7 linked regions of the Homo sapiens genome follow. The protein of the gene in region 3 purifies or fractionates together with the protein of the main gene of each other region. This does not show direct contact. Each region holds a gene or a part of one and is shown on either strand. Other genes may lie near its edges.

Region 1 (2,333 bases), on a different chromosome or scaffold from region 3:
AGAAAATCACAGTCAAATAAGGCAAATCAAATTGGGTATTTTAAGCGGTGACATGGTGAATCCCACAGCTCTATGAGGGCAAGGAGAGACTAGAGGGAGAGAGAACACAGGCTGAGTCATGGTGGCTAGGAGGTGAGATGGACCTTCTCTGCCTATTTGTTTTTCTGAGAAGAGGTATGCATAAGTATTAAGCTAAAGAAGGTTTGCCCATGGATCACCTGAGTTTCTACACTATATGAAACCCTGGTTTATATTAAAGGTGTATTTTGGCTCTGGGATATTAATACTAGCCAAAGCATACCCAAGAGTTGTTAAGAAACTATTTGTTTGGCAAATAGTTTTTTTAAAGGTCAAGTTGGTACAAGGCACATCAGGCACAGTAGAGACAAAGAAGTATAAGGCTTTTTTTTTTTTTATTCTTAGGATTTTATTTTTCATTTATTTTAAGTAAAGAGGTATGTGTGTCATTTTTTATGACGTTTTTTGCTTTTGTTTTGGACATGCATAGATGGGAGTACATGCATTCACCCTCAGAGAATTCCAAAGAAGCTGAAATTCTGGAAGTTCTACGCCATCCAAGGGACTGGGTGCGTTGATGCAGGCAGAATGGCTGTGCAGGGGTTTGGAGGGCACACGATGTGTGCTCCCCATGCCACTGGTCGGCACTTTGCCACTGTGTGGCAGTTACCCGTGCCTTAGTCTTCTCCACTCTGCACCCTACCTCGTGGGCAGATGATAACATGTTTTGGATGCTGTCAGTGATGAATGGTGAGATGGCAGATTGTCAGAGTCAATTGATTAAACCTCATTTATACTTCTAGTGTCATTTTATATGACTAGTTTACAAAATAGGACATTGAGTTTCCAAGTATTGAGATAAGGGAATATAAATAGTATTATATGTATCAGGAAATCTCTCATCTTGTTTTTGTTTCATGTATTTTTTAAAGTTTTCATTTGTGCCACAAAAATCTGTCGTGGAATATATTTTATTTTCATTAATTCAGTGAAGTTGAGACTTCATAGTAATTTTAGAATGCAACTTGAAGGTAAAAATTTTACTTTGTCAATACTGAAGTCTCTGCTGTAATCCTTATATATCTTTCTCCAGAGAACATAATATTGTCAAATAGATACACATTTTTCTAATAGGTATTTAGAAGCACTTGAAATAATCTCTGCATGTGTTACAATTCAGTTATTTCTGTAGTTTGTAAACTCTAAAGTGACATTACTATTATTTTAGAGATGTCTAAGTTGTAATTTTGATTTTTGTGGAACCATTGTTTGTTAATGTTGGGATTCTCTGCACTTTTGAATGTGAAAGCTTATATCCCTGAATTCTGATACTTAAGAGTTTTCTATTTCAGACATCTCTGTGTGGAAGTTGAGACTAAGAATAATCCTAGGGATGTCATGAATTTAGGCAATGTTTCTCATTTGGAAAATGAAATGAGAAATAATTTCCTTCTTTAAAGCAAGTATATATAGTATGAGAAACTTGGAGGCATTTCATACACACGTTTCTTAGGAAAATGGACACATTGAAAATGTCCTCTTTTTTATATTAGAGATTCTGCAGCTCTTTGCTCTTAAGAGCAAATCACAACAGGATTCTTAATGTATGATTTCTTTGTTCATATATTATGAATGTATTATTTTATTTGCTTCGTAATAAAGTTTATAAGGAAGAGCATCTCATACATATCATTATCGTGGAACACGTTGAATGTTTGTGATTCTGTGTGGCCTTTTTGGGGCTGGAAAATGTATGAATTCTTCAACTGTCTTACAAGAGATCTGCTAATAAATTTTATTATTAAATAAGACTAAGAAATATTTATATTTTTTGTTGCCAGGATAATATAGGAAAACGCATATATTTCTTAGTACAGTTGATCCTTGAACAACATTAGGGCTAGGGGCCCCAACTCCTCCTTACTGCATGCAGTTTCAAATCCTTGTATAACTTTTGACTCTCCCAAAACTTAATCACTAATAGCCTCCTGTTGACTGGTAGCCTGACCAATAACATAGTCAATTCGCACATGTTTTATGTTATATGTATTATATACTCTTCTTACAAGCTAAAGAAATGAAAATGTTATTAAGGAAATCGTAAGAAAGAAGATATATTTGCTATTCATTAGGTGGAAGTGAATCATCGTAAAGGTCTTCATCCTCATTGTTTTCATGTTGGGTAGGCTTAGTGGGAGTAGTAAGAGGAAGAGTAGGTCTTGCTCTCTCAAGGGTGGCAGAGGTGGAAGAAAATCTGCGAAGAAGCAAAACTCTTCAAACCTGTGTTGTTCAAGGCTCAGCTATGCTAATGCCAT
Region 2 (4,783 bases), on a different chromosome or scaffold from region 3:
ACCATCCGAAGTGGAGCCAGAGCTGCGCAGTTTCATTGCTAAGCGTCTTTCAAGAGGTGCAGTCTTTGAAGGGCTGGGTAATGTTGCATCTGTGGAGCTAAAGTAAGTGCAAAATGTGCTGTGTCCTGAGTTTTTATTTCTGAACTAAATATGAGAAGTGATGAGAAACTCCAAAAGATCAGCTCCTACTAGACCTGCAGAATTTGTCTTTATTCTCTGGCAGCCCGAGCACTGGGCCTCACACATAAACATTTGTGGAATGGAATTAATTGAATGGCAGAGACCCTGGCACCCAATTGCACTTTATTTAATTAGTTTATTTTTTTTTGAGACAGGGTCTTGCTTTGTTGCCCAGGCTGGAGTGCAGCGGCCCGATTACAGCTCACTGCAGCCTTGACCTCCTGGGCTTAATCAATCCTCTCACCTCAGCCTCCCAAGTAGCTGGGACTGCAGGCAGGCACTACGATGCCCAGCAATTTTTTTAATTTTTTTTTTTTTTTTTTTTTAGAAATGGGGTCCTACCATGTTGCCCAGGCTAATAAGTTTTGTACTTAGAAGAAGAAAAGTGTTGATTATTAAAACTAAATTTGTATACAGTTTGTATTTTCACAAACTTTTATGTAGTTTTCCTTACAAAGGGGAAATATAGCAGATACTCTCTTATTTTCATTTTCAGATGAGGAAATAAACTCAGAGTTTATGTAAACTTAAGTCATGAGGCTGGTCAAATTGATGGAGTTCAGGCTTAAACATGAGCATTCTTAGTCCAATTCCAACTGTCTTTCCATTACACCTCTCCTTTTTTGTTTTGTTTTGTTTTTTTTAAGACAGAGTCTCACTCTGTTGCCCAGACTGGAGTACAGTAGCATGATCTTGGCTTACTGCAACCTCCGCCTCCCTGGTTCAAGCAATTCTCCTGCCTCAGCCTCCCGAATAGCTGGGATTACAGGCATGCACCACCATACCCGGCTAATTTTTGTATTTTTAGTAGAGATGGGGTTTCACCATGTTGGCCAGGCTGGTCTCGAACTCCTGACCTCAGGTGATTCACCCGCCTTGGCCTCCCAAAGTGCTGGGATTACAGGTGTGAGCCACTGTGCCCGGCCTCCATTACACCTCTTTATTCTAGTTCAACTCAGACCGTGAAGTTAGCATACAGGTCCTCAGGAGTTTGAGGCCACTTCCCAAGGATAAGGCCACCTTCAGGCACATCTGCCTTAAACATCAATTTGTGAAGCTTTGGGAGAGGGGAGAACATACTTTTTTTTAATATAAACATGGGTATGAACTAGAGTGAAATTTGTGTGAATTTTTCACATAAGACAGGAGAATTCAAAGAAATTTCATGTATGTTAGTGGCTGCTTTAACTAAAGCCCTCCAGGGTATACATTCATTTTTCTTTGCTGCTGCAAGTACACCAACGAGAAGTCTGGGAAGCTCTGAGTTAGTGGGCAGTTTAATGGTGTTGCCAGATCAAGATGACCAGAATTCAGAGCAGTCCACAAAATTATAGATGCATGAGTAACCAAAATAATGCATTTTACATTTTCTTTCTTTTCTAGAATTCCAGGTTACCGAGTTGGTTGTTATTACTGCCTTTTCCAAAATGAAAAACTGCTTCCTGAAACAGTAACGATAGACTCTGAACGTAACCCTTCAGAATATGTGGTCTGTTTTTTAGGAGGGTCTGAAAAAGGACTTGAGCTATATCCTTTCTTTGGTTTTTGAGAACATCAGGAAGGAAAACATGGGAAGGCAGGTGGAAGAATATTACTACCAACCTCCAAAAAGCTTTTCTACTCCTCGTGTATTTAGTTGAATTTCATACCTTCATGTGGCCATTTTGCCTTGGCTTGTTTGCATTTGCAGCTCACATTATTTGAGAGATTTTATATTTCTTGTTGAGAGATGAAATACTGTCTTCATTATTCATCCTTTATTGCTTCCTTAAGAACATACTTTCAGGCTTGAATTGGACAAGTACATTCAAGGGCTGAAAAATAACATGAATTGTGAGGTAAGGTGACTGACTTAATGGTTTTTAAAGACTGAAATGGGGCCAGGCTCAGTGGCTCACGCCTGTAATCCCAGCACTTTGGGAGGCCGAGGTGGGCAGATCACAAGGTCAGAGACCAGCCTGGTCAATATGATGAAACTTCATCTCTACTAAAACTTAGCCAGGCATGGTGGCAGGCACCTGTAGTCCCAGCTACTTGGGAGGCTGAGGCAGGAGAATCGCTTGAACCCGGGAGGCAGAGGTTTCAGTGAGCCGAGATTGCACCACTGCACTCCAGCCTGAGCGACAGAGTTAAAAAAATAAAATAATGACTGAAATGATTAATATACTGTGATTGCTCTACTTGTCAAATCATATAGGTAGACACAAAGACGCCTGTATTCTAGAAACTTGCCACCTTGTGAGCTAGTAGAGAGGTGAATTTTTTTTTTTTTTAGACAGGGTCTTGCTTTGTTGCCCAGGCTGCAGGGCAGTGGCGCGATCAGGCTCACTGCAGCCTCAGCTTCTTGGGGCTCAAGCAGTCTTCTCGCCTCAGCCTCCTAAACAGCTGGGACTACAGGCAAATACCAACACGCCTGGCTAACTTTTGGTATTTTTTGTCGAGATGGGGATCTCACTTTGTTGCCCAGGCTGGTCTAGGATTCCTGGCCTCAAGCAATCCTCCCTCCTCAGCCACCCAAAGTGCTGAGATTACAGACACGAGCCATTGTGCCCAGCCTACAGGTGGTTTCTTTTTCTTTTTCATTTTTTGAGATAGGGTCTCACTCTATCACCCAGGCTGGAGTGCAGTGGCACGATCATGGCTTACTGCAGCCTTTTCTGGGCTCCAGCGATCCTCCCACCTCAGCCTCCCAAGTAGCTGGTACCACAGGCATGCACCACCATGCCCAGCTAATTGTATTTTTGGTAGAGGTGGGGTTTTGCCATATTGCCCAGGCTTGTCTTGAACTCTTGAACTGCTGAGCTCAAGTAATCCACCTGCCTCGGCCTCCCAAAGTGCTGGGATTACAGGTATGAACCACTGCACCCAGCCTACAGGTGATCTTAAAGGGATACAGGAAACATAGTCCTGTAAGTGCTGAAAGTTTCACAAGACTACGTCTGATGTTTTGTATCTATGAAAAATTCGATCTATTCAATGGCATGTAGTAACATGCCTGGCGAGGAAGAGGATGTCCTTTTCCTGATTTCTAGGCATATAAGATTTATATTATGGTCAGAAGTACTGGTCCATGCAGCCTCTGGCACCAAAGACATGCTATGCAATAGTATGGCTGTTCTTGAACTAAACATCAAAGATTCTTAAAAACATTCTATTTTCATTAATTGATCTTTTATGAATTAGGCATATCCATATCAACTTATTCAAACCTTTGAAAAACTGGCTGGGTGTGGTGGCTCACACCTGTAATCTCAGCACTTTGAGAGGCCAAAGCGGGCAGATCACTTGAGCCCAGGAGTTCAAGGCCAGCCTGGGCAACAAAGTGAAACCCCATCTCTACAACAAATACAAAAATTAGCCAGGCATGGTGGCACGCACCTGTAGTCCCAGCTACTTGGGAGGCTGAGGTGGGAGGATCGCTTGAGCCTGGGAAGTTGAGGCTGCAGTGAGCTATGATTGCACCACTGCACTCCAGCCTGGATGACAGAGTGAGACCCTGTCTCAAAAAAGCAAACAAAAACAATGCTTTCAGCTTGTAGCAGTTGTTAGTCATGACTCTCACAAATTTACTACCCATTACATATATAGTAGAAGTTATACTTTTCACATACTTAGAAGATACTGCAGGAGAGAGGAAGGGATAGTGCAGGAGTGAGCAACTGATGCAAGTCTAATAGAGTTGTTCTCCCGGACTAGAGCTCTTCGTGTGTGACACTAGTCTTCAGGGAGCAGTATAGCCTAGAAAGCCAGATGTGCTCACGGTAGCATGTCTGACATCTGGAGTGGAGTGGAGTGCTTTGATGAGTTACTTGTATCCTTCCCCATTCACATTCTGAATACGAATGAATTCTCTATCTACATGACTAATTCAAAAGGCACTTAATAAGCTCATACTATGCATGTTTTAGACACTGTACCACAGGTGCCAGGGAAATGAGGATTATTGAGTGAGTATCTCCATTGAGTGCACAGTACAGTGGGAGGAGAGGGACTTGTGAGTGCCCAACTCTTCCCTGTGAAGAAATAGCATGGAACCCTATTCAGTCTCTTCATTTTATAGAATGCATTTCTTGGTGTGTTTTAAATAAATTCAGTACAGATTTAACCCTCACCCTGCCCAACAAGCCAGGAAAGGTATATCACAATTTCTTTTTTTGAATTGGTGGTGTTAGCTTTAAAAAGGGAGGTGTCTATCCTGGTCTTTTTCACCATCAAGGATATGATGAAGAAAATATGAAGTCCACTAAAGGAAAGGCTTATATTAAAGCAAATGATGTTCTTTCTTGATTTAGGCAAGGGGCCTGGAGAGTCACATAAAATCCTATCTGAGCAGCTGGTTTGAGGATGTTGTATGCCCAATCCAAAGGGTTGTTCTTCTCTTTCAGGAAAAGCTTACCTTTCTGCTACATGCTGTAAGTACTGCCAAATGAGAGCATTTCCTTAACTGAGAATCACTTTGGATGATTTAGAAACATACTCATTTTCTCTGAACATGACTCCCATCCCTCCCCAAATATTCAAACTATGCTTGCTATCAAGATAGACCACACTTTATTTTCTCAGATCTAGAAAGTGATATTACTAAGGTAGAGTTGAATTTCAA
Region 3 (4,783 bases):
CAGGATGGTCTCAAACTCCTGACCTTGTGATCCGCCTGGCTTGGCCTCCCAAAGTGCAGGGATTACAGGCGTGAGCTACCGCGCCCGGCCAATATACTCTTAGAAAACAGGAGGTCATATTTAGGCTAGTTATAAAAATGAATTTATACTTAACATACAATAATGTGAATGAAGAGTATGCTTTTATTTATTTATTTATTTTTTTGAGACGGAGTTTCACTCTTGTTGCCCAGGCTGGAATGCAGTGGCGTGATCTCCGCTCACTGCAACCTCCGCCTCCCACGTTCAAAAGATTCTCCTGCCTCAGCCGCCTGAGTAGCTGGGATTACAGGCGCCCGCCACCACTCCCGTCTAATTTTTGTACTTTTAGTAGAGACGGGGTTTCACCATGTTGGCCCTGCTGGTCTGGAACGCCAGACCTCAAGTGATCCGCCTGCCTCGGCCTCCCAAAGTGCTGGGATTACAGGCTTGAGCCACCGCGAAGGAGTATGCTTTCATATCCTCAAAATGATTCAGTAATTTCAGCACTTAACTGCAAGCAACCTTACAAATAATGTAGAGGAGTCCCACATTCCAGGTGAAGAAATTGTACCTTACTGAAAATAAGTGATGTGCCAAATTAACAACACAGTAGCACAAGACACAGAAGGACCTCGGCCTCCTAATTCATTGTTCTTTTTAATACACTTCAATTCTTCCCTGCCCTAATCTTAAAAATTCTAGTTTAAAATTTTCCCGGACTTTGCATTTAATCTGTTACTGTGTATATCATTATGTATGCCTTATTCCTGCAAAACTGATAAATTCTTGCTGGGAATATATACCTGTCTTTTCTGTGTGGGACTTGAAAACACACTCTTTTTTTTATGCTACCAGATGTGTGGGGGTTTTTCCATACCAAGCAGTTTTCCAGCAGGCATGAACTGAATGTCCCATAATTCAATTCTGACACATATGTACCTGAAGTTAGTCAGATCCCACAGGTTAATGGCTCAGTCCCGCAAGGCTGCCCCCAACCTCAGATGGTAATCACAAGTAGTAGGTTGTCACCTATACACTCCTGACTGACTGTAAATCAGGGTTCCCGTTACTCCCTCCTTGGTTCAGTTAACTTGCTAGAGTGACTTACAGGACTCAGGGAAGTACATTTACGGGTTTATTATAAAGGATACTACAAAAGATCAGTGAACAGCCAGTAGGAAGAGATGAATAGGGCAAGGTATGGGGGAAGGGGCACACCACCATCCCAGTGTCACCAGTAGAGTCATGATTGCAAGCTGTCCAGGTTCTTGGCGTTTTGAACAAAGAATTGGACAAAACTCCAAGCAAAGAAAGAATGAAGCAACAAAAGAACAAAAGCAGGGATTTATTGAAAACAAAAGTACACTCCACAGTGTGGGAGCTGCCCTAGCAGCACTCCCCCCCGACCCCCGCTGCTTTACCGAATCTTCTTGGGTCCAAATACCCCCTAGAACTTTCCCATTGGCCATTCCATGCTCACCTCATGTAAATGAAGAGGTGGCTTGCAATTGGTCTGATTGGTTGCCAGACCCACCCCCACATCAGTCCGCTTGGTTGTGGACAGCGACCATTCAGTGGCTAGAGTGAAGTTACAAAGTTGCAAACGAAGATTCCACCCGCAGTCAGTCTGATTTGTTGAGGACAGCCAATTTCCCGTCTACTGTGCAGAAAAGGTAGGTGGTTTGCAACGGGAGTAGCCTCTGGTCCTTTTGTTACTTAGGCGTGGAAAGTTAGGGTTTTCCCTTCAAGTTAGTTCTGGGAAGTCGGGGTGAAACAGCCTTAGATTCCCTGCCTCCAGACCCTATTCACCTGCCTCACTAGCACCTCCAGTGTTTTCATCCAGAAGCTCAACAAATCTTATTCAACGGTTTTTATAGAACTTCATCTCCATCCCCTCCCATAGAGGTGTGTGTGTGTGTGAGGCTGAGAGTTCAACCCTCTTGTCACATGGTCTTTCTGGTGACTGGCCCCACCCTAAATCACTTCATTAGCATAATCAGGTTTGATCAAAAATAGTGGCTCATAAATAACCAAAGACACTCCTATTAGAAAATTCCAAGAGTTTTAGGAGGACTGTGACAGGAACTGGAGAGAAAGACCATGTATTTCATATTATATCACAGGGACAGAGGTAATGGTTAAAGCTAGTGGATAATGATGCAAGTATTGTCTGCTGAAAGCCAATTCGTTCCGTATTTCTTAATATTGCATGTTTGGTATCTTTTGGTTGCAAGCAACAAAAACGAATTTAAGAAAAAGAAGAAGTAATTAAATCCGGCCGGGCGTGGTGGCTCACGCCTGTAATCCCAGCACTTTGGGAGGCCGAGGCGGACGGATCACGAGGTCAGGAGATCAAGACCATCCTGGCTAACACGGTAAAACCCCGTCTCTACTTAAAAAAAAATTAGCCAGGTATGGTGGCGGGCGCCTGTAGTCCCAGCTACTTGGGAGGCTGAGGCAGGAGAATGGCATGAACCCGGGAGGCGGAGCTTGCAGTGAGCCGAGATCTAGCCACTGCACTCCAGCCTGGGAGACAGAGCGAGACTCCATCTCAAAAAAAAAAAAAGTAATTAAATCCAGAAGGGTAGTGGTGCAGCTAGTTTCAAGGATTTGACCAAACCCAGGTATTATAAAGCATCAGAACTGCCTTTGTCTCTCATGAGTTCTTATCTCTACTTTCTCTCGGAGTCTCTGCTTTCTCTCTGGCTTCTCCAAGATGTGAAGCTTGGCCATCTGGGGTCACACCTTTATGAGCTTGGTTATTGAGGAATAAAACTGAACACTTCCAGCTTCTGTGTTTGAAATCTAGAGGAATTGCCCAATTTAATTCATGTTCCCACACTTTGGATCAGTCACTGTAGCCAGGAAAGGGCAGATACAATGAGGGGCCCCATCTAGGTCATATCCCTAATTCCTTGGCTAGAGGAGTGAAGTTTATTGTTGGTAGCCCTCCCACCAAAACCATAGGAACATTTCCACAGGTAGAGGGTACTTTCTGGGCTGATAAAACTATACATAGGGGCCACATAAATAAACTATTAAATAGGAGCATATAGTTATTCATAATAAACTGACTAATAAGCACTGTTAATTTTCTAATCTCCAGTGAGATAATGTAAAGTGTCAAATGGTCTTAAGTAGTTAGAGTGATCAGCCAGCATTGTTTCTTTGACACAGGGAGCACTACCTGGAAATCCAAATTACAGACCAAATTTAATAAAAACTGAATTCAAGCAGAGAGTTCAGGGAATGCTTTTAATGTTAATGTGATCAAGCTATGATAGGTTGATGATTCTGTCACCTCTACAAGAATATTACTTTCACGTTTCTTGAAATATTGGTATTCTTTGTATAGGACAGTGCTAACAAAAATTTAGATCAGTCAGTTTGTGAAAAGATTGTTACTTTTTTTGTTTAAAACTTTTTCATGAATTTCCATTGTTTTGAAGATGAAATTTAAACCCTTGACATTATTTCCAGGGTCCTGTATGGTCTGACATCTGCATACCTCTCTAACCTCATTATGAGCTACTCTTCTTGCTCCTTTCTCTGTAAGCCCTAGCCATATTTATCTTCTCTCAGTTCCTGGAATGCTTTAATTTCCACCCCCCGCCTTCAGAGCCTTTATGTTTGCTATTTTCCCCTGCCTTGGCTGCCAGCACCTTCCTTACCCTCACCTAATTAACTGCTTACCCTTGGGTTAGATCCCACTTTAGGCAACATTTCTTCAGAGAAGCTTTTCCTGTTTGCCAGTTTCTCTAACTCCTTTCCTCATCCTCTAGACTGGTTCAATTCCCCAGCTACTATGGCACTTGGTACTTTAATACTTACCTTTGTAACATTTAACAATTTTTGGTCATTGTCTATTTTCCATTTAGACTGAACCTTTCATAAGAGAGCTTAGATATTAGGAAGAAGGAGTAGCTGATAGTACCAATTTTTAAGCAAATTGGTTGTAGCTGGGGCTATTGGTTTTATAATTTAAAAGTTAATGTTTTATCTTCTCTTCTGACAGAAAGTGAAATATTTATTTCCATTGCAGTTTAGCAACTTTCCATGTTTCCCTTTCCATTTTTCTTGTGAATCCCGTAGTACAGGATCAAAGATAGGAATTATTTAACATACATGGCTGAGGATTCCTTTTCTAGCTCCTTTATTTAGAATGGTGCTTTTTAACCCTTACTCTAGAGTAAGGAATTTTTTAAAAATACTGATGCGTGGACCCTACCAGCACCTATTGTAGTTTAATTTATCTGAATGAAGCTAGATGATTCTAATGTTCAGTCAGGTTTAAAAATTGCTGGTTTAGAAAATATCTTACTTGAGTACTCTTCTGCCCCTCCAGTCCCTGCCCACCTTCTCTTTTTATTTGAGTGAAACATTTTCTTTTCTCCTTTGATTTAAGCAAAGCTCAAGCTTGGTGTGGGAATGAAAGGAAAAGGACTTTGGAGGGATTTACCTATTTTTTCTAGGAGAGAAAGTGCAATACTAACTTTTCTGTTTTGTGGAATGTCCCAGTGCAAGTCTAGTATTCTGATGTTTTTTTTCTTCCCCAAACTGTTGCCCCCCACCTCCAGCCTATGTACAATTTGTGTTTTATTTTAGTATTGTGTATATAGGATTCAGCACTATCCTCAAATGTATGAACATATCCCCTGTGGATAAGGGGGGACTACTGTATTTGTAAAAGTTCATATTTCATATTTCAATGCATATAAGAATTATTTTATCTAATGGTTACAGTCTATATCCTTCATTGATG
Region 4 (5,428 bases), on a different chromosome or scaffold from region 3:
ATGATTCTAAAACTCATATAGTAGAAGGTAAAAATTAACAGGACAACTTTGAATAATTAGGGAAAATTGGCCCTACTGGTCATCAAAACCTATGCTATTGGCATAGAAATACGGTACAAAATATGGAATCCAGAAACAGATTACATGCACACGAACACACACACAGCTGGATTACAAATCTCACTATTTTTTAAGCATCAGATTGAAAATACAGGATTACACATCTCACTATTTCATAAGCATTAGCTTGAAAATACAGAAGAATATATGTATGACTCTGAGTTCTTGAGTTAGAGAAAGTTTTTCTTATACAATACACACAAAAAACCAAAAATATAAAAGAAAATTTTTTATAACTCTGACTACCTAAAGATGTAAAACTTCTAGAAGATTGAGATCGCATAGTAAAGATCATTATTAAATCAGGAGAAACTTTTTAGAACTTGTATAAACAAAATTATTACAATCTTAAACCTACGGAATTTTACACAGAAATTTAAAAATGAGTAATATCAAAATAATCCAGTGATAGAGGGAATGGTGAGAATATATAAGAAACAAGACTGACCATGAACTGATAATTATCAGTGCTGGATGATGAATATACTAGGTTCATTATGCTATCCCCTCTACTTTTGCATATGTTTGAAATGTTTTCATATTATTATTTATGTACTAACATGGCAAATGATCCAAGAGTGTAGAATGAAAAAAGAAAGTTTGTAAATAAATAATCATACTATCTATATTTTAAACATCTATATTATATATTATAAATTTTCTATGGCCCAATTTCCTTAGACCAGTTTTACTAATTTATATTTTCCCAGAAAATACATATGTAAATGTACAGAAAAGGTCTGCAATATTACAAACTAAACGGGTATCCGTAGTTACCTTGGGAGAAAAGGGAGATACCAGCATTGTGAGTGTTCATCAAAGGGAAAATTTAGCCTAATCTCTAAGGCTTTAATTTTTATGTAATTACAGTGTAAGAGGTTACACACCTGCATATATTTATCAAACCCATAGGCCTGGAATTGTTCTGCATCCTATCTGTGGTGGTGGCTACATGAATCAATACGTGTATAAAAACTCATACAATCATACAACAAAAGAAGTAAATTTTATTATAAAGTTTAAAAATTTTTAAAAATAAAAGCAAAAAACCTCATAAAACTGTCACTTTAAAAGGGTGAATTTGACTCTATGTAAATTATACCTCAATATATCTGACCTTAAAAAAAGGAAAGAGTTTAATTAAAAAAAATCATAATTTATTTAAAGAATAGGGTATAAATTACATTAGTGATATGATATATTAATTATTAAAGCATATTACAAGGCACACATGTACTATATATGCATCTATAATATGATCCCACTTATACGCCTCTATCTTATTTCTGCATTAGAGATTACAGAGACTTTTTTTACTTACCTGTATTTTTTTCTGTAATAAACATATTATTTTCTACTAATAATGTTTTTCAAAGTTAGATGAGTGGGCACTGGCCCAATGGTGGAGACTCAAGGTAGAATCTCTGCTGTCTAAGCCTGGACTTCAAGAGTGAGCATCTGTAGTGGCCCAAGGGAATGCAGTGGGGGGTTCCCGTGGTAGCAAATAAGGAAACGTGCTTAAGGCCCTGACAGCCGTGTGCCCCGGGTATCTGATCATTTGGCTACCACAGGCGTGCATGAAAGAGTTTGCCAAATTGAATATAGCTCTTAAGAACTTACTCTGAGGCCCCATCAGGCACTGTCAAAGATTCCCTTCCCAGCACACTAGAAAGCATTCTCTGCTGGCAGATCGGTCTCTGTCAAATTATTTATAGGAGATTGGTTTGCATACACAAAATGATATGAATACTTCTAATTATATCCAAACATGACAAATGTCACTACAAACTATGCTGAGGGTTCATGTTGCCAAATGTCTTGCCCTAACAAAGAGGAGGTAGTTGCAGCATCAGCACATTAGTTCCTATATAAGCAGGACTGCCCCTTGTGCCTTATTTCCACCAAGAACCCAGAGGTAAGTGATGAAGGCCTTGGAACTCGAAAAACCCCAGGTGGGGAAAAGAGCTGACCTCGTAGTTATCTGTGAGCATTAAACTGCTCTCTCAATCTTAACTTTTGTCTTCATAGAACCAAGCTTTGGGGTAGGGAAACTTCAATTCTGTAACTATAATAACAATTCTGTAACTATAATATTGGAATTTCGGAGCATCACTAATAAGAAGCTTGTTGTTTTACAGAGTGGAACACTTCTGAACCTGCATTTTTATCTGGAACTCCAGAGGTAAGACTTGGCTTTATTAATTTATTGATGACAGAGGGGATATAGTCTAATGAAGCTGTGAACAATCCTGAATTATACACCATTTCCATGTTTTTGCAGTTATATCAGGAAAGAGTGTTTCCGAGTGAGTGTTTATAAATGCTAGAAAATAACTTTTTCAAAATGTCTTCTTCTCAGAGACTATCCTCATTTGGGTTCCAAGATTCAAAGACCGTTTAGGACAGAATTAGCTTCAACAGTGAGTTCTCAGCTGTGCTTAGAACTGTCCAGTGGCAATAGACTAGTCCATGCCAGTCTTCTTCTATGGCAAAGCATTGAGGACTTAGGACATTTTATAGACATTTTTAAAGACTCCAGAAAGATTTTTACCTAGAAATATAAATATAAATATTTTAGCTACCTTTGATTATTTGTTATTTGTTGTTAGAAAGACTTATTATTATTTACTTAACAGGTCGCAAGTATTACATCCACCGGGTGTTAAATACCATGACTAATTTAAGAGGAATCCTGCCCTTCCCTAAGTAACTTTCTAATTGAAAATAAAGGAAAAACTCAACCAATCTAACATGTCCACATTGCAGAGGCCTATCTATTAATCAGAAGACAATGGCTTACATGCATGTGATGTACTCTTAAAACTTTTTTCTCTGTTTTCTGGGTGGAAAGAAAAGAAACCCATGGAATTTATGTGGGAAGAAGGGCCTTTGTGCTGAAGCTCTCATTCCTCTGTGGTTAGATCTGTTAACTGACAGCTGAAATCTCTCATGTCAAAAAAGATTTTGGAATCAAGGCAATGCTAAGTCTGTTGGGAACAACCCAAATTACAAAAAATCCAGAGTATTAGAATGTATTATGTTCTTCTAACAATCCACTGAGAGATACAACACCAAATATCAACATAAAGATGTTAAAAATAATTATTTGCTTTATGAGAGAAAATGGCCATCTTAAAAGGCAAAGATTTTTTGATAGCTTTGAAAATATGAACCTTCATTTGAACAAGACAAACTTTCTTTTCTCACCATATGATTGTCCTGGCATATGGCATAGACAAACATTATGCAGAAAGAGGAGAGGAAATTAAATAATGACAGTTGCTATAAAACAATCCATCAATAGTTTTAGCTGTAGAGGTTTCATTCTAATTCAATTGTAGGTACCCTATCCCTGAGGATCAAGATATGTGATCTGAAAAGGAAATTCACAGTCCTAAAAATGAAATCTCAAATTACAGTCTCACTCCATACTTGTCCTTTAGACTATGTTAGAACACTGGGGAGTGCCAGTTTGGAGGAATAGTTACAGCACAGGCTATGTTCAACATTTCTTTCATTTCAAATCCTAACTCACATTTGTGACTTCTGCTTTTTATATCTCTCTCTCCCGTTTCTCTCCTCCCTAGGCAGAATCCTTTGCTAAATAAATCGCAGCCATGAGTGCGAGCTCAGACGCTGAGATGGCTGTTTTTGGCGAAGCTGCTCCCTACCTTCGAAAATCAGAAAAGGAGCGGATTGAGGCCCAAAACAAGCCGTTTGATGCTAAAACATCTGTCTTTGTGGCGGAGCCCAAGGAATCCTATGTGAAGAGCACTATACAAAGCAAAGAAGGAGGGAAAGTAACCGTAAAGACTGAAGGTGGAGCAGTAAGTGAAAACAGGGAGAAAATACTCCCCATTTTATTTCTTGGTTCAAAAGTTGAAGCCTAACTTACTGGGAATCTCCAAGCCTGTTGCCAATGCAAACACCCTTCTAGTCAGTGTTGAGACATTAGATGTGGAAGGCAAAAGAAATTCACAGCAGTACCTTCATGTCTTCCCTTCCCAACTTCGCACAGGACCTCACCCCACTATGTATGGCCTTCACCATTTCCCTTCAATTCCCCACTTCCTAGTCTGAATGTCCAAACTTGAGGGAAATGAAAACAAGCTCCTCCTATCAGAAGTTAAATATTTACTTAGTTAAATAATGTATTAATATCCCCATTACTTCCAAAAACATGAAGTTTCTTAATGAATGAAAGAAAAAAATAAAAATTTAGCCTACTAAAATAAGAAAAAAAGGATATAAACTGATAAATCTGGGATAAGAGAATGTGGGAGGAAAAAATCTTTTAAAAAGATAGTGTCCTAGCTCATCATAGGAAACAGGTTTTCTTAACATTAAACTCTGAAATGAATATATTTCATGCCTTTTTTAAGAGGACATTAAATAATATAATGAGAAGTATGTGTGATTATAGTTTTGTACCAAAATATACAGGCAAACATAAACCCTACCTCCAACCATTAAAACGAACTGGTCTTAGCCAGGCGCAGTGGCTCACGCCTGTAATCCCAGCACTTTGGGAGGCTGAGGCAGGTGGATCACCTGAGATCAGGAGTTCGAGACCAGCCTGGCCAACATGGCGAAATCCTGTCTCTACTAAAAATACAAAAATTAGCTGGGCATGGTGATGGGCACTTGCAATCCCAGCTACTCAGAAGGCTGAGGCAGGACAATCACTTGAAGCAGGAGGGCGGAGGTTGCAGTGAGCTGAGATCGCGCCACTGCACTCCAGCCTGGGCAAAAAAAGCAAAACTCTATCTCAAACAAACAAACAAAAACGAACTGGTTTCTTGCTTACTCACCAGACTCTAACTGTCAGGGAAGACCAAGTCTTCCCTATGAACCCTCCGAAATATGACAAAATTGAGGACATGGCCATGATGACTCATCTACACGAGCCTGGAGTGCTGTACAACCTCAAAGAGCGCTATGCAGCCTGGATGATCTACGTGAGTGTCTGTAAACACCTTTTTATTTCATGTCTCTCTCTGAGTAAAAACGAGATCCAAATGATAAATGTTCTGATCTTCCCAGACCTACTCAGGCCTCTTCTGTGTCACCGTCAACCCCTACAAGTGGCTGCCGGTGTACAAGCCCGAGGTGGTGGCTGCCTACAGAGGCAAAAAGCGCCAGGAGGCCCCGCCCCACATCTTCTCCATCTCTGACAATGCCTATCAGTTCATGTTGACTGGTGAGTGAGTGAGGCATCTATTTACAGAAATGTGTAAATAGAATCTTTGCAGAACAGACAGACCTCTTCCGAGCCTCTTTATGTTATGATAATACATTCTAGCCACAT
Region 5 (3,901 bases), on a different chromosome or scaffold from region 3:
AAGTCAGTCTTCTAGCTATGGCCAACAGGGCTCTGGATCTGGCCAGTCTCCTAGTCGCGGCCGACATGGGTCCGGTTCCGGGCACTCTTCCAGCTACGGCCAACATGGGTCTGGCTCCGGTTGGTCTTCCAGCAGTGGCCGACATGGGTCTGGCTCAGGTCAGTCTTCTGGATTTGGTCACCACGAGTCTAGCTCATGGCAGTCCTCTGGTTACACTCAGCATGGATCTGGCTCAGGTCACTCCTCCAGCTACGAACAACACGGCTCTAGGTCAGGACAGTCATCTAGGGGTGAACGACACGGATCTAGCTCAGGTTCATCTTCCAGCTATGGTCAGCATGGGTCTGGCTCCCGTCAGTCTTTGGGCCACGGCCAACATGGGTCTGGATCTGGCCAGTCTCCTAGCCCTAGCCGTGGCCGACATGGGTCTGGTTCTGGGCAGTCTTCCAGCTACAGCCCATATGGGTCTGGCTCAGGGTGGTCTTCCAGCCGTGGCCCATATGAGTCTGGCTCCGGTCACTCTTCTGGCTTAGGTCACCGAGAGTCTCGCTCAGGACAGTCCTCTGGCTACGGTCAACATGGATCTAGCTCAGGTCATTCCTCTACCCATGGGCAACATGGTTCTACATCAGGACAGTCATCGAGCTGTGGCCAACATGGAGCTAGCTCAGGTCAGTCTTCCAGCCACGGTCAGCATGGCTCTGGCTCAAGTCAGTCTTCTGGCTATGGCCGACAGGGCTCTGGATCTGGCCAGTCTCCAGGCCACGGCCAGCGTGGGTCTGGGTCAAGGCAGTCTCCCAGCTACGGCCGACATGGGTCTGGCTCCGGTCGGTCTTCCAGCAGTGGCCAACATGGGTCTGGCTTAGGCGAGTCTTCTGGCTTTGGTCACCACGAGTCTAGCTCAGGGCAGTCCTCTAGTTACAGTCAGCATGGGTCTGGCTCAGGTCACTCCTCTGGCTACGGACAACACGGCTCTAGATCAGGACAGTCATCTAGGGGTGAACGACACGGATCTAGCTCAGGTTCGTCTTCCCACTATGGTCAGCATGGGTCTGGCTCCCGTCAGTCTTCGGGCCACGGCCGACAAGGGTCTGGATCTGGCCAGTCCCCTAGCCGCGGCCGACATGGGTCCGGTTTGGGGCACTCCTCCAGCCACGGCCAACATGGGTCTGGCTCAGGTCGTTCTTCCAGCCGTGGCCCATATGAGTCTCGCTTGGGTCACTCTTCTGTCTTTGGTCAACATGAGTCTGGCTCAGGACATTCCTCTGCTTACAGTCAGCATGGTAGTGGCTCAGGGCACTTCTGTAGCCAAGGACAGCATGGTTCTACATCAGGACAGTCATCAACCTTTGACCAGGAGGGATCTAGCACAGGCCAGTCTTCCAGCTATGGCCACCGTGGCTCTGGCTCCAGTCAGTCTTCTGGCTATGGCCGACATGGGGCTGGATCTGGCCAGTCTCTTAGCCACGGCCGACACGGGTCTGGTTCAGGGCAGTCTTCCAGCTACGGCCAACATGGGTCTGGCTCAGGACAGTCCTCTGGTTATAGTCAGCATGGAAGTGGCTCAGGGCAAGATGGGTATTCTTATTGCAAAGGAGGAAGTAACCATGATGGGGGAAGTTCTGGCTCATATTTTCTCAGTTTTCCTAGTAGCACTTCACCCTATGAATATGTCCAAGAGCAGAGGTGCTACTTTTATCAGTGAATAATAAACATAAATGCAATTTACTCAAGTAGCAATTTAAGAAATAGGAAAGTCATCTATGAATTCATCATGAAAGACAAGCAATCCATCATGAAATTCGTTCTAAAAGTGAATCAATGCATTTCTGTCTCTTTCTTTAGAGCCTAAAACTGTAGCATATATCTTGTTATGGGGTTCCTTCCAAAGACTGTTAGGCATTTGTGCTACTTTGTTAGAAAATACTGAGTGGAATAACTTGTTAGAATGAGGGTTAAACTTTGAGGAATAATGAAAAGCTTTTAAAGAGCTTTGGGTTTAGTTGGAGTTGTCTTTTTGAGAGCTCATCATTCATTTATAGATGGTGCCAAAGCTAACCTTACATTTCTTAGAAGCAAAATATTACAAATGCATTACCAGTCCTAGATACAAAGCTTTGTTTTACAGCAATTAGTGTACCCTAATTTTTAGTGTGCCCCAAGTTTGGTGTGTCCCAATTTTTGGTATTGTGGCAGAAGGTGAAGGCTCTGAAAGCAAAGATGCAGCAGCGGTAGTGTCTTTACTTATCAAAACCATCAAGTCCTTTTTCTTGGGTATATATTTAATCAGTAAGTTAATTAGTGGCATAAAAAAGTAGCATCAGGGTCTTTTCCCAAGCCAGTGAGCAAGAGCATTATTTCATAAAGAATAGGGATTTATCATTTCAGGAAAAAAAAAAACATTCAAATGTGGGCTTTAGCTTGTTTTCAGCAGAAAGATCTTGCTCCCTATTTCTAAGAGGCTGCTCAATATTGGGAAATATATTGAGGAGTTATTCCATGGAAATACAATGCTTTCCACCTACTACTGTAGTTCAATAACGTTTCCACCTGAAAAAATATCATCCATGCCCAGATGAAAAGGAAGAGTATCTGTCACTGCTACATAGTTCCTTAATTTGACTGTAACACATTTGTTTCAAGTCTTTGGATTCAAACAACCGGATTGTATTAAAATTGACAATAAATAAATGTTGATTAAATACTAAGACTTTTCTCATCTGTGCTTCATTTCACTTCTTACATACAGATGGTCATCCTAGAAACCAAACCAAACAGCGATTTCCCAATATTCTATTTTTCACAATGAAGAATAGATAAAGCATTCTTAAAACTCAATAAGACAAACTACTTCATTTTAAAATGATCAAAATTCCATCACACTGGTATTGGCAATGATTTTTTTGATATGACACCAAAATCACACACAATAATGTGGAGCTGTCAGCTCCATACATTTTATTGTCCCTGAAGCCCTTAGAGGGAGACAACATATGGAGGTAGAAGGCGATATTTGTCTTGGTTTAACAAAAACTTTTTAGTGTTAGTTTTAATTTTTAACAAAAAAAGTTTTTTAAAAAAATTTAAAACAGAAAAAAGCCTACAGAATAATGATGTAAAGAAAAAAATATTTGTGTTCAGCTATACAATGTGTTCGTGCTTTAAGCTAGGTGTTAATTAAGAGAGTCAAAAAGTTTAAAAATGTAAAAGTCTATAAACCTAAAAATTTACAGTAAGCTAAAGTTAATTTTTACTGGAGGAAGAAATTCTTTTATAAATTTAGTGTAATTCAAGTGTATAGTGTTTACACACTCTACAGTAGTATACAGTAATGTCCTAGGCCTTCCCATTCACTCACCACTCACTGACTGACACCTACAGCAACTTCTAGTCCTACATGCTCTATTCATGGTAAGTGCCCTATACAAGTGTACCTTTTTTATCTTTTATGCCATATTTTTACTGTACCTTCTTTATGTTTAGATACATTTAGATGCACACTTACCATTGTGTTAGTTGCCTACAGTACTCAGTACAGTAACATGCTGTATAGGTTTGTAGCCTAGGAGCAATAATCTATACCATATAGCCTAGTTGTTTATTGGCTATACCATCTATATTTGTGTAAGTACACTCTCTGATGTTTGCCTAAGGGTGCATTTTTCACAACATATCCCCCATTGTTAAGCAACACGATTGTGTACTTTACTATAGGGCCTAGCAATTCCACTCCCAAGCGAAATGACAACGTATGTCTACATTGAAGATTTTTACATGAATGTTTATAGCAGCTTTAATAATAGCCCCAAACTTGAAACAATCCAAATGTCCACGAACAGATGACTGGATAAACAAATTGTGGTATGGCTATACAATGGAATTCTATTTAGCAAGGAAAAAA
Region 6 (3,500 bases), on a different chromosome or scaffold from region 3:
AAATAGATGAAATATGAGGGCTTTGTTAGAGCACATGAAAAATATTTTATACTTTTTTTTTTTTTTTTTGAAACGAAGTCTTGCACTGTCTCCCAGCGGGCTGGAGTGCAGTGGTACGATCTCGGCTCACTGCAACCTCCACCTCCTGAGTTCAAGTGATTCTCCTGCCTCAGCATCCCAAGTAGCTGGGATTACAGGCACCTGCCACCACACCCGGCTAATTTTTTGTATTTTTAGTAGAGACAGGGTTTCAATATGTTGGTCAGGCTAGTCTCAAACTCCTGACCTCGTGATCCGCCTGCCTTGGCCTCCCAAAGTGCCGAGATTGCAGGCGTGAGTCACTGCACCTGCCAAATATTTATGCTTTTAAACTGGATCCTTGATTATGTATTACCTCCTTAATTTACTAGTTACCATTGTAGGATAAAGCAAGCCCTAAAGATTGTTTGGTGTGGCTGTTTTCTAACAAGTCATCAATTAATATTAAAACTGTCATTCTTCCATCTTCACTTTTCAGTTAGTTTTGCTGAGAGGTATTCATATAATCTGTTAAGACATCCTAGGACAGGCCGGGCCCAGTGGCTCACGCCTGTGACCCCAACACTCTGGGAGGCCGAGGCAGGTGCATCATCTGAGGTCGGGAGTTTGAGACCAGCCTGACCAACATGGAGAAACCCCATCTCTACTAAAAATACAAAAATTAGCTGGGCGCAGTGGCACATGCCTGTAATCCCAGCTACTCAGTAGGCTGAGGCAGGAGAATCGCTGGAACCTGGGAGGCGGAGGTTGCGGTGACCCGAGATCACGCCATTGCACTCCAGCCTGGGCAACAGGAGCGAAACTCCGTCTCAAAAAAAAAAAAAAAGAAAAGAAAGCCCGGGCGCGGTGGTTCATGCCTGTAATCCCAGCACTTTGGGAGGCCGAGGCGGGTGGATCACGAGGTCAGGAGATCGAGACCTGACCTCAGGAGATCGAGATCCTGGCTAACGCAGTGAAACACCGTCTCTACTAAAAATACAAAAAAATTAGCCGGGCGTGGTGGCAGGTGCCTGTAGTCCCAGCTAATCGGGAGGCTGAGGCAGGAGAATGGTGTGAACCCGGGAGGCAGAGTTTGCAGTGAGCCGAGATTGTGCCACTGCACTCCAGCCTGGGTGACAGAGCAAGACTCCATCTCAAAAAAAAAAAAAAAGAAAAAAGAAAAGAAAAAGAAATCCTAGGACAGGAGCATAAAGCCTAATAAGCAGGTGCAAACTCACATGTCCAGTCTTGTTAGTAGTACTGATTTATCATAATTTCTTCCAGAACACTTAGCTGTTTTATTACGACCAGGCTTAATGCTAAACAAAGTAGTGTAAATTTGTCAGAAAATTCAGATCCCAGGTTTTTCTGATTATGTAGCCATGCTTTTTTCACTATACTTTTCTTTTCCATATAGGTATGAATGAAAAACCAGAGTAGAGACATCCATTTAGTGGATTATAAATGAGGTATTATGGGCTGGGCATGATGGCTCACGCTCGTAATCCCAGTACTTTGGGAGGCCAAGGCGGTCAGATCATCTGAGGTCAGGAGTTAGAGACCAGCCTGACCAACACGGTGAAACCCTGTCTCTATTAAAAATACAAAATTAGCCAGGTGTGGTGGTGCATGTCTGTAATCCCAGCTACTCAGGAGGCTGAGGCAGGAGAATAGCTTGAACCCAGGAGGCGGAGGTTGCAGTGAGCCGAGATCGCGCCATTGCACTCCAGCCTGGGCAACAGAGCAAAACTCCATCAAAAAAAAAAAAAAAAAAAAAAAAAAGAGGTATTATGATGTAATGGAAAAGAGTGATTGTGAGTGTTAGATATGGCCTTTCCCTTTCGTGCTTCTAGCCACCTTGTCACTGATTTTGGAAACCTCACTTAACCTCTATGGGTGGGCCTCAATTTCCATCTAAAATAGAGAAGTAGGGAGGAATTGGATCAAACCAGCCCAAGAAAATTTAATTAACTATTTCAAACTCTAATGAAAAATCTCTACTTTAAAAATTGAAACACAAAAATGTTCTGGGAGGTTCTATTCATTGTCTGCTTTCCTACATTTGCCCTGATTACAAGACTGAGTTCCTTGATAATTGAAACCATGTCTCTTTATCTAGTGCCTAGCATAGTGCCAAGCACACAGTGTATGCACAGCCTATTGGTATGAAAGAGAACACAACTTCATTAATTCTCATATCTCTCCAGTTCACACCCCTTCATCTCCTGTAAAACACCCCTTCCCCTACAATTATTTCTGTTAGTCTCTAGGTGTTTCTTGTATTCAAGAGTATGTCCACAGTTTGGGTGCCTCTGTGCATTCCTTCTATCTGAGCATCTGCCATCATTGGTGCTCTGCCATGCCACTGCTGGGAACATTTGACCCCTCTGGGAGCATCTTCCTAATAGATCCCATAAACTGCAAAGCCTTATGGTTACCAAAATGATGGTGTATATATATACTTGGAGCCTTGCAAAGCCCCTAATGAAAGTATTTCCTTCACCAGCTAGAAGTACTCTCCTTTAGCGATCAGATTAAAACACACACCCAGGTGTGTGTTTTAAAGAAAAAGGACCCAAGAGGGAAAAAGTTTCCAAGGCATGAATGAATTAAGAGTGGCAAATGCTACTGAGATAGAAAGATTAGGACGGAGAAAACAGCACTCACTCTGACAGTATTCTTTCCAACTGGATTTGGTAAATAAGAGTGAAGAGGTACCTCGAGTGAGCACTGGGAGAAGTCATACTGGAAGGGATAAGCAGTGATTGACATAAGAAAGTAAAATAAATTCAGGTTCATCCAGACACCCCCATAATCTTGCCTTGACCCAGAAACATTGTGTTCACAGGACTTTCAGCTTCCCACCCCCATAAGTAAGCTTCCTAATTATGATATCTTGGTCTTGCCAAGCATTTAGAGGGCCTTACTCTGTGGCCCTCCAGATAGTGATTTGAATGATTAAGTAAACCTCTTTTTAGATAAGTGTTCTAGTCCAGTCTAACATCAGCTTGTTGGTCTTTTTGGCACTGTCATTGTCCAGTACCAGCACATTCTTGGCTCCTTGCCACATCTCTGGCCTCAATGTGGGAGGCAAAGACAGTGAGCATTTCCAGAGTGGTGAGATGGGTGCAGCACATAATGAGGCGATGACCACACAGCATCTCTGAACAGCATGTCCACACAGGGCTCGAAGTCATTATGCTGCATGTCCACCTCATGTCCACAATAGCTGAGCAGTTGAGATTGGTGGAGTGGACCTTCTCATTACTCATCATCTAGAGGAAGGTCCTCATCATCTCTACTTCTCAAAGGGGTAGAATTGAACCTGAACCTGCTTGACAGACAAGAGCCCAAGCCTAACCAAGGTGGCTGCCATGGTGACCCTTGCCCTGAAAGCCATTTCCATTAATTTAAAAATTGTAGGTATATAGGAACTATAATAACAGGCTTAAAATTAAAATTTGCTCTGTTTGTTGGGTCAC
Region 7 (4,783 bases), on a different chromosome or scaffold from region 3:
TCTAGGTGAGGTGAGGGTGTGGTGAAATGGGCATGCTGATATGGAGTATGAACCTAGATTTTAAAAAATGTATGTCTACAGAAAATTTCTCTGCATTTCTCTCACTCCTAACATACACACACTCATGTTATATTCTGTTAATAGTGATTGGTTTTTGTGGTGGAATTATGATGACTTTGCAAAATTTTCTTCACTTTCTACATTTTCTAAAATGGATATGTATTACTCCTTAAAGATGACATGTAGGTTTTATCTTATATACCAGCTCTGATCCATTGTGAGTAGCTGCTAAGAGGCAATGTTGTAAAGGTTCTGAGACAAACTGGGTTAGCAGGAAAGAGTATAATTGAATCTAATTGTCATGATAGGTGGCTTGGAGAGGTGAAATCCACAAGTCAAGATCTTCTTATTTTAGAAAATGAAGTTGGACAATAATTCATTTAAATGGTGTAATGTAGCTTTTATCAGAAAATGAAGAGTACTCAGTTGACAATTTCAACATCTATTCTCTAAAAACAAAGTAATATACATGAGTAAAAAATAGAAATACTATAGAACTTTAAAGATTACCACTATAATTTTTACTGACTTACATATTTGAAAAATATTTAGGTAGGTTGGTGTGTGTTTAATCTGTTATCAGGTTGTCTTTTGCAATTACTTTGGTTGTTTAAAGGTTGTGTCATAGTTGTCATTCCTCAGAGTGCCTAAATCTTCATTTGAAAAGTTTTCTTTCATTTAACATTTATGTTTATAGTAGTTGAATTTTTTTAAAACAATAACTTTGATTTTAGTTACACGATGTATTTTATTTCAAAATGGACTTTTAATGCATGACTACTCCCTATTATTAAAACAAGCAAAAATTTCATTGATGAGAAACACTGAAATTGTTTTTTAAGATGTTTTGTGATTGGCCAGGATATATAGATGCATTTAAATTGCTAAAATTAAACTCTTATGAGAAACTCATTCTTGCCTTTATGTTTGTTTTAAACTGTTTCTCGCCTTTTTTTTTTTCAGCCTTCAAAACCTCTTACATTCCAGTAGAAAACTCTCTCTGCAAGTCCTTAACTTTGTTCACTCATTCCAGGTAACAAAAACCAAAAAGTCCAAATGGTACTTGTACTGAGCTTTAAGTATGCACAACACTTCTGTGTTTGTTTTTGAGTCACCACAGCAGCAAGATATGAAATAAACATTAATTTTATTGTACAAATGAAGACATTGAGATTCAAGAAGTTAATGGACTTGCACATTTCACTCGCCAGGTCTTCGGAGACCAAAGCTTGATCTCTTTGTTCTGTGCCAGTGCTTTATTCAACAGAAATGTGTTAAGTGTCTTTTATGGGCTGTGTGCCATGCTAGGTGTTAGTTTTTGGTTATAGCGCACTTCCCAATAACTAAAGCGATTCTCCACTGCTGGGATGGGCTGTCTGTTGTGGCAGCGAAGGCCAGTGCTCTGGACTTCTTGTTTTTCCCCCATCCCCAAGGAAAGAAAGAATATTCTAGACTTGATTTATAGGTAAACTTTTAAAATAGAATATTTCTGTTCAGAATATCTAATTCAACGTTATGAAATCAATATTTTGGAGTTTTACTTCATTCATTCAGTTGGTAAATGCTTGACCCTGACCTATGCCAGATTCTTTGCTGAGTGCTGTGGAAACAGTGATGTGTAAGATACTAATGGAACTTAGAGAATGTTGTGGGAGACAATAATCAGATAAATATTAAGATATATAAGTTCTAAAAGATTTTAAAAAGTACTTTGAAGAAGCCAACTATGATGAAATCTGCAGGTAGACCTAATTTCAATAGGTGCAGGATAATATAAGCTGAAGCCAAAAAGTTGGAAAAGAATATTCCGGCAGAGCTTAGGTCTGTACTTCCTGTGTCTGGGAAATGTCCAGTGAACAAAGAAACAAATGAAGCCCAGTGTGGCAGAAACTTCATGAAAGAGGGGTAGAAGCAAGAGGTAAGGTTGAAGAAGAGGGCCGGAGCACGGTGTGCAGGGCCTTCTGGCATATGTTAGAGAACTAGTATTTTACGTTGAGTGCAAAGAGAAATGATTAAAGACTTTTAAACAGGGGAGAGAGGTTATTTCTGAAGGACTATTTTATAAAAATAGGCAAAAATGGAAATTTTATAAGGATGCAATAAATGGAAAAATTTCAAAATTCTGTCAATACTGGCCTGTCTGTTGTGGCAGTGAAGGCCTTGGCCATAGTGAATTAATAAATTAAACTAATTTGGGATATATTTTGGAGATAGGTTGATAAAACTTGATGATGAATTAAATGTGAGGAAAAGATTAGGGCTGTGGAGGGAAGGGAGGGGAGGGATCATGAATGATTCTTATGTTTTTTGATTAGCTGGATGTGTGAAATAGAGAAGACTGGGGAGGAAGAGGGGAGGGAAAATTTGAGAGTTCAATGATGGGCATACTGAGTATAGAGTGCATGGGGAAGCATCTGAAATGAAGTGTCAGATAGGTGGATGTTTGAGCATGGAGTCCTGGGGGGAGGTCTGTGCGGAATATATGAATCTGAGAAGCGTGGAGTAGGTGGATTATTCTGGTGCTTAGTGTTTTGTAAGGTTTTTTTTGTTTGTTTGTTTTGTTTTTTCCCCGAGATGGAGTCTGGCTGTGTTGCCCAGGCTGGAGTGCAGTGGCACGATCTCGGCTCACTGCAACCTTTGCCTCCTGGGTTCAAGCCATTCTCCTGCCTCAGCCTCTTGAGTAACTGGTATCACAGGCATGTGCCACCACACCCAGCTAATTTTTTTGTATTTTTAGTAGGAAGAGGTTTCACCATGTTGGCCAGGCTCGTTTTGAACTCCTGATCTCAAGTGATTCACCCGCCTCAGCCTCCCAGAGTGCTGGGATTACAGGCGCACAAGCCACTGCACCTGGCCTTTGTAAGTTTTTTTTTTTTTTTAGAGATTTTTCTTCTGTTAGGTAATACTTTGGGGTTAGGTTAGGTCTTGTAAAAATGAACTTTTGCTTTTCCCACAGTCTCGTAGCCTCTTATTTCTATTTAAAAGGACTTACTACAGTTTAACGTTGTTAGTCATTTTTGCACATATTAATACCTGTCATTGATTGCTTTGGGCTCACAGTGTAGATCTTTGCATCTCCTGTACTGCTTTGCAATCCATAAACACTTCTCAGGTAATCAAGGTCTCTCTTTCTCATTAGTTATATTAAGTGGTTTTGGTAAAGTGTTGAATATCATTTCTCTTGTTTCTTGATCTTTTAGGAAGGTGCTTCAATATTGGATATTCACACAGAGCCCAGTTTTTCAAGTTTGCTTTCACAGTCATCGTGTGCTGACATGGGTGTTCCACTTCCTGCAAAAAACTTAATATTTAAAGATGGTGTCTTATCAGAATGGAGTGGACGGTCACCTTCCTCACTTCTTATTGCTAATCTCCATTTGCAATAATTTGGTTACACCATTTGTTGCTCACACTTTCTGCCTTTTTTCTTTCTTAACGTTAGCTTTATAGTGTCAGCCACTAAAAAGCATCCTGCTGCTGCAGTGCAATTCTTGCTTAACTAATATTAAAAGTTGGGGAACATATTCATGTTTTCTGAAGTTTTGCTCATTATTGCACATCTTATTGCGACAAAGTGCTTTTTAGCAGCCAGCACTGTATTTTTTACCTTGAGACAATCTGCATTTCTTTTATAAAACTAAGTATATACTTTATAGGCTTTATGATGACTGTTATGTTTATAAGCAGTCACTATGAAAATTGCAATGGTAATTTTATATGTTAGTTTATCAAACATAAATCTTGTTTAATTTTATATTTTGTTACCTATACTTTGGGGGATCAAGGGAAGAGATGGAACTCTTCCTCTGAAAAGGCTTCTTGGTACTTAAAGTAGTAAAACTATAAAACAATAAACATCCAGTATTGAGAGATGATATGATAGGGCATTATGAATTCCTATGGGTGTCTGTAAATTATGTATGTCAGTTGGACATTGTAGAAGGTATGTAAATCAGCATAGTTGTGTATAACTTAACCTTGATTTATAAGGTCTTAAGATTATGACTATTCATTGACATCTCATGAGAAGCTTTAGAAGACTTTCTATTTTTAAACACCATTTATATGTGGACTTCTGTTGTCACTGACTTTGGGCTTTATATTTTCATAGAGTCTTTATGGAAAAAATAGAATTTATTTTCCACTCTTGTAGCTATAGCTGCTGCACACTTTCACCCTGATTTATTTTTTTGTTTCTTAGCTTTGATGTTTTCAAACCAAGGATTGTGATTTTAGGTTAGAATTACATATTAGAAGCATTAAGACTATGTCTTTGGATCAGAATGCTTTAGTGATAAACCTACTTTGAAGACATACTCTTAAGCAATCTGGATCTTAAATTTATGTGAATACTTTTTTAGAAAATGATAAAGAAAAATGGAATTACTTCAAAGTGTTTCTTGAGTCATTGATTCTTTTAGCATCTCAAATGTTAATTAGAATAATTGGAATCACTTTTTAGACTTTTCAAGTTACCTTCCTTGGGAAGTTTGTGCAGTGTTATAGTTTAGTTTAGCTCCTCTTACAGGGTAATGGTTTGCTAGTTTAAAACTGTAACCAAACGAACTGGTCAGACAACATATATCTAAAACACTTAAAATGTTAGGAAGTTTGGGAATGTTATAACCTAAACGTTTTTGCTGGTAACTTTTTGTTATTTATAGATATTTGTGTATTTAACATACATACTTCAGGAAATATATGCCTTTCCTAAAACTTAACC

The links.
Region 1: the proteins of STYX (region 3) and CPOX purify together in Homo sapiens (affinity purification with mass spectrometry; one study listed by BioGRID and IntAct). This does not show direct contact.
Region 2: the proteins of STYX (region 3) and C17orf75 purify together in Homo sapiens (affinity purification with mass spectrometry, with the first as the bait; one large-scale study listed by BioGRID). This does not show direct contact.
Region 4: the proteins of STYX (region 3) and MYH8 purify together in Homo sapiens (affinity purification with mass spectrometry; one large-scale study listed by BioGRID and IntAct). This does not show direct contact.
Region 5: the proteins of STYX (region 3) and HRNR purify together in Homo sapiens (affinity purification with mass spectrometry; one study listed by BioGRID and IntAct). This does not show direct contact.
Region 6: the proteins of STYX (region 3) and CAPZA1 purify together in Homo sapiens (affinity purification with mass spectrometry, with the first as the bait; one large-scale study listed by BioGRID). This does not show direct contact.
Region 7: the proteins of STYX (region 3) and FAM91A1 purify together in Homo sapiens (affinity purification with mass spectrometry, with the first as the bait; one large-scale study listed by BioGRID). This does not show direct contact.

The regions. Positions count from the first base shown.
Region 1 is NC_000003.12:98,578,946-98,581,278, reverse strand, and holds the end of CPOX (oxygen-dependent coproporphyrinogen-III oxidase, mitochondrial precursor), read left to right. Parts: intron 1-508; coding exon 509-596; 3' UTR 597-1,833; downstream 1,834-2,333. UniProt on the Homo sapiens protein: Catalyzes the aerobic oxidative decarboxylation of propionate groups of rings A and B of coproporphyrinogen-III to yield the vinyl groups in protoporphyrinogen-IX and participates to the sixth step in the heme biosynthetic pathway.
Region 2 is NC_000017.11:32,335,132-32,339,914, reverse strand, and holds part of C17orf75 (protein Njmu-R1), read left to right. Parts: coding exon 1-102; intron 103-1,563; coding exon 1,564-1,707; intron 1,708-1,960; coding exon 1,961-2,018; intron 2,019-4,472; coding exon 4,473-4,592; intron 4,593-4,783. UniProt on the Homo sapiens protein: As component of the WDR11 complex acts together with TBC1D23 to facilitate the golgin-mediated capture of vesicles generated using AP-1. May have a role in spermatogenesis.
Region 3 is NC_000014.9:52,732,483-52,737,265, forward strand, and holds part of STYX (serine/threonine/tyrosine-interacting protein), read left to right. Parts: intron 1-2,362; exon of another isoform or gene 2,363-2,396; intron 2,397-4,783. UniProt on the Homo sapiens protein: Catalytically inactive phosphatase. Acts as a nuclear anchor for MAPK1/MAPK3 (ERK1/ERK2). Modulates cell-fate decisions and cell migration by spatiotemporal regulation of MAPK1/MAPK3 (ERK1/ERK2).
Region 4 is NC_000017.11:10,418,537-10,423,964, reverse strand, and holds the start of MYH8 (myosin-8), read left to right. Parts: upstream 1-2,014; 5' UTR 2,015-2,035; intron 2,036-2,258; 5' UTR 2,259-2,302; intron 2,303-3,707; 5' UTR 3,708-3,737; coding exon 3,738-3,947; intron 3,948-4,934; coding exon 4,935-5,078; intron 5,079-5,163; coding exon 5,164-5,320; intron 5,321-5,428. UniProt on the Homo sapiens protein: Muscle contraction.
Region 5 is NC_000001.11:152,210,880-152,214,780, reverse strand, and holds the end of HRNR (hornerin), read left to right. Parts: coding exon 1-1,705; 3' UTR 1,706-2,705; downstream 2,706-3,901. UniProt on the Homo sapiens protein: Component of the epidermal cornified cell envelopes.
Region 6 is NC_000001.11:112,622,832-112,626,331, forward strand, and holds part of CAPZA1 (F-actin-capping protein subunit alpha-1), read left to right. Parts: intron 1-3,500. UniProt on the Homo sapiens protein: F-actin-capping proteins bind in a Ca(2+)-independent manner to the fast growing ends of actin filaments (barbed end) thereby blocking the exchange of subunits at these ends.
Region 7 is NC_000008.11:123,809,259-123,814,041, forward strand, and holds part of FAM91A1 (protein FAM91A1), read left to right. Parts: intron 1-1,023; coding exon 1,024-1,093; coding exon of another isoform or gene 1,094-1,132; exon of another isoform or gene 1,133-1,403; intron 1,404-3,260; coding exon 3,261-3,446; 3' UTR 3,447-4,783. UniProt on the Homo sapiens protein: As component of the WDR11 complex acts together with TBC1D23 to facilitate the golgin-mediated capture of vesicles generated using AP-1.